Linked DNA regions of Homo sapiens: region 2 is linked to region 1. The links come from fine-mapping of genetic effects on gene expression. Tissue or cell type: testis. Region 1 holds a variant in brackets; the other region holds the start of a gene. All regions are shown on one strand. Distances are from middle to middle.

Region 1 (4,162 bases):
CAGGAGGGAGATGGTAAGGAAGTGATAATAGCAGAGGCCTATTCTGAGGAGTCCACTGTACCTGTGAAGAGCCTTGTCTGGCACATGGTAGGTTCCTGGAGGACGAAACCCTAGGGCTGCACCTTCTGTGAGTTGGGAAAGAGTGTCAGGAACAGAGACAGAGACAGGGTGTTCCAGGAACAGCACGCAGCATGGAGCCAGGGTGGCCATGGGCAAGCAGGGCGGCACAAGACAGCTTGGGGCCTCAGTGCTGGGCCGTGGATTTGAACTGCCCTCTGGGCCAGACTGGTCCCCAGCCCTAGTACCTTGTGTTCCACCAAAAATTAAAAATAGGAAAGATTCCAGGATCAAGTCAAATACATTTCCAAGCCATGCCTGCTACTGAGTTGGGCCCCTGTGAACATCACCAAAGCACATCAGCACACGAAAGGCTCTGAGGATGATGGTAGAACACAGCAATATTGATGTCATAATCCCTATGCCACCAAAATGATGTCATTGGCTGCTCAGAATCCCAGCACTTAGATGCGAGAGAACTACACAGGTTTAGAGCTGAAAGGACATGGATCCAGTGGCATTGCAAGGAACACAGTTTATGAAACAGCCACCGTGATGGGAAGATCTTTTAGCAGGGAATACCATCATCTGTGGCATGTCAGAAAACTGACTCTCTGGTCAGCAGTGAGAAGGACAGATTGGAGGTCTCTCTGGGTCCAGAGGCCCAGCTGGGAAGCTATGCTGCTCCTAGGGGACTAGAAGGGAAAACAAGCATCAGAACATGAGCAGCATGTGAGCAAAGCTGAGGAAGGGAGGGTACACGCGCTATTAGGAGTTAGAATCACGCAGAATTGGCAGCTGAATATCACTGTGACAGTCATGGGAATTCCCTGAACCTAGGAGTCAGGACCAAGAATTCTAGACTTGACCTCAGGGGTACTACTGGGTGGTTGAGGCAAGCTACTCTTCCTCCTCAGGCCCAGTGTCCAATTCTAATAAGGAGGTGTGGAGAACACGATGAGTTTCAAGGGACCCTTCAGCCCTGCGATGTTGACATCTCGAGATGCTGTGAGCTGTTTCCACCTCTGTTGCAAACATCAGTGAGCCAGACAAGCCCTATGGCATCAGGGTGAAAGAGCCAGTCCACACATTTATTAAGTGCCTTCTGTATACTGGGCTGAGCACCAGGTCCTGGGAGGGAAGGAAGGAGGGTGGAAGGGTGCACCAGGGCACCAATCCCCAGATAACTCAATTACTCCTGGCGGTTGCCCAGTACACGGGAAAGGACCCTGGAGTCAGAAAACCAAGAGGTGCTAATCCCAGCTCTGCTGTGCTAACTGGGTGACCTTGGCAAGTTCCTTACCCCTTGTATTCATTTATTGTGTCTGCAAAACAAATTACTACGAACTGAGTGGCCTGAAACAATAGAAGTTCATTTTCCCACAGTTGTGGAGGCTGAAAGTCCAATATCAAGGGGCCAGCAGGGCCATGTGCCCTCAGAAGCCACGGGAGGATTCTTTCTGCCTCTTTGAGCTTCCAGTAGCTCCAGGCGTTCCTTGGCTTGTGGCCGCATTGCCCTGATCTGCCTTTGTCTTCACATGGCCGTCTTCTCTGTGTCTCAGATCTTTCCTTTCTCTTATAAAGACATCAGTTGTTGGATTTAGGGCCCAATCTAAATCCAGGATGATTTTATCTTGAGATACTTGATTACATTTACAAAGACCTTATTTTCAAATATGGCCCTATTCACAGGTCCCAGGAGTTAGGACTTGAACATAGCTTTTAGGGGGCAATGATTCGGCCCACTACATCTCCAAATGCCTCTGCCTCCTCATCAGAAAAATGAAGATCATAGTAGCATTTATCCTGTTGGGTGGTTGGGAGAATTAAAGAGGTAATATAGTCCTTAACATGGCACCTGACAAATCACGGTTGCTATTGTTCAGATATGTGGTTCACACCTGTCCTTCCAGCTCTAAACCTGTGTAGTTCTCTCACGTCTAAGTGCTGGGATTCTGAACAGCCAATGACATCATTTTGGTGGCATAGGGATTATGATATCAATATTGTTGTGTTCTACCATCAGCTCCAAGTGTGTGGGGGAGGAGGGAATGTCACCTTCTCTAGGACTGCAGACATTTGTCGCTTGTCTGATCATGACAGCCAGGACAGGATCACTCTGCTGCTGCTTCTACCCTGAGTTCTGAATGGACTTGGGGCTGCCAGGCATGACAAGG[T/A]TTGATGGGGAACACCTCGGCACACACAGCCATTCTGCACTGCTGGGTGCACCCTGCGCTATTGGAGCTTGTGGGCTGGCCCAGCATGAAGGGACTCCTTTTCTCTCAAGCCCTCAGGACTGAGAAGAGGAACAGGCACACACTCTGGTGCAGGGAAGGAAGTCCCTGTAGGCTGAAGCCCAGCTTCGGGCTCAGTGGTGGGATCCAGGTGGGATTCGGAATAGCACAGATCAGTGCCCAGCATGTACTAGGAAAGCATTAAATATTCACTCATCCGATGCTTAATGAACAAGTGTGATCACTGACTTTGGAGTCAGGATGATCTATCACCGATAGGAAGAGGCAGACAAAAAGATGCTGAAAATACAAAACACACAGAATTTGGAGACTGATCGTTCATGAGGCTGAGGAGGATGGCATTTAGGAGGGTTCCCAGATTTCTGGTTTGGGTAACTGATGGACGATGGGGAGGCCAAGCATGGCAGAGGAAGCGGAGGTTGGAGTGATTTGACTTTTTTTGTTTTTGTTTTTGTTTTTATACTTTAAGTTTTAGGGTACATGTGCACATTGTGCAGGTTAGTTACATATGTATACATGTGCCATGCTGGTGCGCTGCACCCACTAACTCGTCATCTAGCATTGGGTATATCTCCCGATGCTATCCCTCCTCCCTCCCCACACCCCACAACAGTTCCCAGAGTATGATATTCCCCTTCCTGTGTCCATGTGATCTCATTGTTCAATTCCCACCTATGAGTGACAATATGCGGTGTTTGGTTTTTTGTTCTTGGGATAATTTACTGAGAATGATGATTTCCAATTTCATCCATGTCCCTACAAAGGACATGAACTCATCATTTTTTATGGCTGCATAGTATTCCATGGTGTGTATGTGCCACATTTTCTTAATCCAGTCTATCATTGTTGGACATTTGGGTTGGTTCCAAGTCTTTGCTATTGTGAATAATGCCGCAATAAACATATGTGTGCATGTGTCTTTATAGCAGCATGATTTATAGTCCTTTGGGTATATACCCAGTAATGGGATGGCTGGGTCAAATGGTATTTCTAGTTCTAGATCCCTGAGGAATCGCCACACTGACTTCCACAATGGTTGAACTAGTTTACAGTCCCACCAACAGTGTGAAAGTGTTCCTATTTCTCCACATCCTCTCCAGCACCTGTTGTTTCCTGACTTTTTAATGATTGCCATTCTAACTGGTGTGAGATGGTATTTCATTGTGGTTTGGATTTGCATTTCTCTGATGGCCAGTGATGATGAGCATTTTTTCATGTGTTTTTTGGCTGCATAAATGTCTTCTTTTGAGAAATGTCTGTTCATGTCCTTCGCCCACTTTTTGATGGGGTTGTTTGTTTTTTTCTTGTAAATTTGTTTGAGTTCATTGTAGATTCTGGATATTAGCCCTTTGTCAGATGAGTAGGTTGTGAAATTTTTCTCCCATTTTGTAGGTTGCCTGTTCACTCTGATGGTAGTTTCTTTTGCTGTGCAGAAGCTCTTTAGTTTAATTAGATCCCATTTGTCAATTTTGGCTTTTGTTGCCATTGCTTTTGCTGTTTTAGACATGAAGTCCTTGCCCTTGCCTATGTCCTGAATGGTAATTCCCAAGTTTTCTTCTAGGGTTTATATGGTTTTAGGTCTAACGTTTAAGTCTTTAATCCATCTTGAATTGATTTTTGTATAAGGTGTAAGGAAGGGATCCAGTTTCAGCTTTCTCCATATGGCTAGCCAGTTTTCCCAGCACCATTTATTAAATAGGGAATCCTTTCCCCATTGCTTGTTTTTCTCAGGTTTGTCAAAGATCAGATAGTTGTAGATATGCGGCATTATTTCTAAGGGCTCTGTTGTGTTCCATTGATCTATATCTCTGTTTTGGTACAAGTACCATGCTGTTTTGGTTACTGTAGTC
Region 2 (4,162 bases), 390 kb before region 1:
TGGATGTATATGTGCAGGTCACAGGGGTTATGATGGCTTAGCTTGGGCTCAGAGGCCTGGCAATCACACCCAGCTAAGTTTTGTTTTTTTAGTACAGATGGGGTTTCTCCATATTGGCCAGGCTAGTCTCAAACTCTTGACTTCAGGTGATCCACCCGCCTCAGCCTCCCAAAGTGCTGGGATTACAGGTGTGAGCCCCCACGCCCGGCCTAGCACAATATCAATATATTCCTCATAACAATGTTAGAAAGGGAAAGTTCTCTTATTAGCACCTTCTGGACTCAGATGAAGAAACTGAGTCCAGAACAGGTTAAGTAATTTATCCAAGTTAACTGGCTAATGAGGGGCAAAGCAGAATGAAACCTGGGTAGAATGAGCCCAGAGCCCATGCCTGTCCACATTCCGCCCTATGCTTCTTGAGCTAGGGGCCAGCTCTGTGTTCAGGGCATTGCCTGCTGCACACTGGCTACTCAGTGTATGCTTGTTGGTGGAATGAAAGGCAAGAAATATTTATTCATCATTTATTATATGCCGGGCACTGTTGCCTGCTTTTATAAATATTACCTGATATAATTCTCACAGACAACCCAAGGAGTTAATATCAATCAGCCCACTTTGCAGATAAGAACTCCAAAGTGGGACACATTGCCAGTAAATGGTAGAGCCAGCTCTGGGTCATGGTGGGTGGGCCTGCCTCAGACCTTCTCAGTTCTTTCCCACTGCCTTTAAGAGATTTTTTGTTTTGTTTTGTTTTGTTTTGTTTCTGTATGAGTCTCCCCGGCTTCCCTCACCCTTCTCCCAAGAAAAAGAAAGAAGGGGAGAGAACTGGAGAGAGAGACCAGGTAGGGGACGGGGACTGGGGGACGAGATAGGATGGAGAGAGTCACAAAGAACCCCTGCTTTCTATCAAAGCACGGACAGTGGTTCCAGGCGCCCAGCAGATGGCAGGATGTAGCCAAAGATTCCCTGCAGTCCCGGAGAGCTGGGCCCGCAGGACTGCAAGGCAGGGGGACCTGCCTGTCCCTCAGGGAGCGTCCTGGGAACCCGCGCTCGCCCCACACGTCTTGGGGCGCATCTGCCGCACCCCTTACTTAGGCACCCGCAACTGTGGCGCGTATCTCCCGATCCAGGCTCCCGCCGCAGGAGCCCAGGGACCCTCATGCTAGCCTCGCCCCTAAATCGGACGCCGATGCCGCCCAATTTTGGGGGAATCCCGAGACTCATGCCCAGCCATTCCCAGGGAGAATGGTTTGGGGCAAACTATGGCTGTCTGGGGCCTCAGTTTCCCCATGTACAATGAAGGGGTCAGATTAGTATCTAATCTTAAGGGGTCAGAAAGTAAACAGATACTTTCATTCATTAAACACTGAGAAAAACCTTAAGAGGAACAGCGTCGGTTGGAGAGCCAGCAGACACTCCACTGCCCATCCCAATATGAATGGGCAAATACAGGCTAGCGGGGAGTCCTGGGACTCCCTTCGCAGCCGGGGCCGACTAACCACAGACCTAAGAGCCCCTCTACCTCTAGACCTCCGTCTACTGCGCTCTAAAATATGAACGATGCTTTCTTACTGCTGGGTTGTCGGAGGCGGATGTGGGATGGTGCTAACAAAGCGCGTAGCCGAGGCCTGGCCATAGTGGGTGCTGACAAACCGCTTACTGCCTGCAGGGACCGAGCTCCCGGCCGAGGGAGGAGGGCCGAGCAGGGATTCAGATTCTTCCGGGCCGATCCCTTTCTCAGCTCCTTCCGCCCTGCCGCCGCCCACTGCGTGCTGCCTTCGTCCGTCCCCTCCTCCCCCGCTCCTTCCCCTCCTTCCCCTGCTCCCGCGCCGCCTCGCGTCTCCCGCCCGCTGTAGCCGGCGAGGAGCGCCGCACGTTGGCCCCGGCGCGAGGAGCTCCCGGGTTCCCGGGCGGGCACTGGAGTAAGGAGCTGCGAGCGCAGCCCGAGGCGGGGCACGGCGGAAGGCGCGGCGAGAGCGGGGTCCCTGCGAGCGCAGTCGGAAGGGCGTCCAGGAGAAGGGGGACGCCGTCCCCGCCCCTGCACGGTGCTCGGCCCCCTCGGGCTCCGCGCGCGGCTACAACCCGGACTGGGCGCGCCCCCGGCATCCCGCATCTCTGCGCGCGTCCCACATCCCGCATCCGGCATCCCAGCGGCCGGGCATGTAGCAGCGGCAGCAACGGCGGAATATGGGCGGGAACCACTCCCACAAGCCCCCCGTGTTTGACGAGAATGAGGAAGGTAAGAGAGCGAGAGGTGCGAATTCCCGCTTCGCGGGGCATCCCCTTCCTCCACCACCCTCGGCCGAGCCCTGCGGGGCACCGCATGCTGCCCGGCGCGGGGACCCAGGCATGGCCACTTCGCCCAGCGAATGCAGTGTGTGCCCGACCCGTGCCAGGCGCGGCGCTTCTGCTGAGGCAACTCCTAGGTACCCAGTGCCGTTTAGTAGTCGGGACGGTGCCTAGCGCGGGACTGGGGAGGCGGCTTCAGAGAGTTGAACCCGAAACCTGCACTTGGGGGTGTGGAAGGGAGGAGTTGACTTCGGAGGCCAGTCGGGATGGTTCTAGGCTCGGGCTCCCCAGGAAACCGAGGTTTCCTTGAGAGCCTGAGGCTGACGGAGGTGGCCTGGAAGGGCGGGTTGCACCGTGTGTCTGTGTGTGTGTGCGCGTGCCCACGACGCATTTGGTCTCGTGCAAGGGCCTGTTGGATGCAGCTCTCCTCAATCACCCAGGACAGAGGGAAACTTTTCTTTGCTAAACTCTGTGGTTCCTAGGAGGGCGTCCTGTTCTGGGCAGCCTCCCCCTGGCGCAGAAGTGGTGTAGGCTGTCCAACCGCATCTCAACTTCCTGGCTGGATCCTTGCGGTTCAGGTCGATAGAGCTCCCTATTTGGACTAGCAGAACCCTCTTTCCAGTGCAGCGTGTCCCTGGAAAACTTACTTCACCTCTCTGAAACATTAGTCCCTTCATCAATGAAATGTGAGTTATGATACCACTAGCTACTTTATAGGGTTGTTTGAAGCTTAACCACTAGTAATCCACGTGAAAAGTGCCTTATAAATGCAAGCAGTACCGAGCTGTGCCGTTTTTTATGTTAAGAGCCCTCTGCCTCTCAAAGCTGGTTTCCTACTGTGCTGACTCGCCAGTCTCCACTGTGCCCCAGGTAAGAGCTGAGACATACTGAGCACTTACTATGTTCCAGCCATGCTAGCACATAGTGTTCACTCCATCCTTTTCATGCCCCTTGAGGTGGCTACCTTAGAAAGGGGTCTGTCCTGGTTACTGCTGGTAAGAAGTAGAGCTGGGCTTGAGGCAGGACAGTCTGCTTTGAAAGCTGTGCCTGTCATCATTACCCAGGGCACTGGCTGTGTGCGTACATCATGGATGGCTTCTAGAACTCCCAAGGCTGTGAGTGCTACTCAGATGCCTGCCTGGACAGCCCTTCTCAAAAAGATAGATGAACACAGTCAAGGTTAAGTGAGCACCTGCTGTGTCAGGCCCACGAGAGCCTTCCTTAAAGGAGTTCCTAGTCTAATGGCCCTGAATGACCGTCCATGGTGATAAGGGCATTGAGAAACCAGTGCAGGGTCTTGGGGGCACAGAGAGGCCCCAGCTTTTCCTGATCTTTAGTCTGGAGCATGTGCAGGTGAGCAGGTAAGGAGCCAGTTGTGGACAGAGGAGAGGTGGGCACAGAGGTAATGGAGGCTCTTGCATGTCCCAGTAAGAGTTTGAACACTATGCAGCATCACCCTCAATTGCACGGGCTTGTGGTTCTAGCCTGGGTCAAAGGTCATGCTTTTGCTAATTTTCCTAGCATCTTTCTCTTTTATTTACAGAGGAAATTTGCCACCCTTATATTGAAAACCGTCTCTGTCATTTATCCCCAGCTTGAAAATATTCATTGGCAAAATAGTTATCTCTGGTGTAGCCAACCTTTTGATTTTCCTGTTCCTGTTCCTTATTCTATAAGCAGATTGGGCCTAAGGTTAACTGCCTGTTTCGGTGCTTGTTAAAATACAAGGTTATGAGGCCGGGCGCGGTGGCTCATGCCTGTAATCCCAGTACTTTGGGAGGCCGAGGTGGACGGATCACCTGAGGTCAGGAGAGGCCTGCCTGGCCAACATGATGAAACCCCGACTCTACTAAAAATACAAAAATTAGCCGGG

Alleles and levels. Positions count from the first base shown, and alleles are read on the strand shown. Sizes are in standard deviations (SD) of each study's normalised expression.
As copies of A replace T in region 1, the expression in testis of the gene that starts at base 1,804 in region 2 goes down (moderate effect, 0.47 SD a copy in GTEx).

The links. PIP is the estimated chance that this variant, and not a neighbour inherited with it, causes the effect.
Region 2: STK32B starts here. The variant in region 1 is fine-mapped to the expression of STK32B in testis (GTEx, PIP 0.90).

What each region holds. Positions count from the first base shown.
Region 1 is chr4:5,435,847-5,440,008 of GRCh38, forward strand. All of the region lies in intron 6 of STK32B (serine/threonine kinase 32B), which reads left to right. Among named protein-coding and RNA genes, the nearest start is that of LINC01587, 87 kb to the right of the region's middle. The variant T/A (reference allele first, on the strand shown) is at 2,235.
Region 2 is chr4:5,049,677-5,053,838 of GRCh38, forward strand. STK32B (serine/threonine kinase 32B) reads left to right here and starts at 1,804. Exons shown (of 12, transcript NM_018401.3): 1 at 1,804-2,239. The coding sequence starts at 2,188. RefSeq lists an enhancer at 2,506-3,044.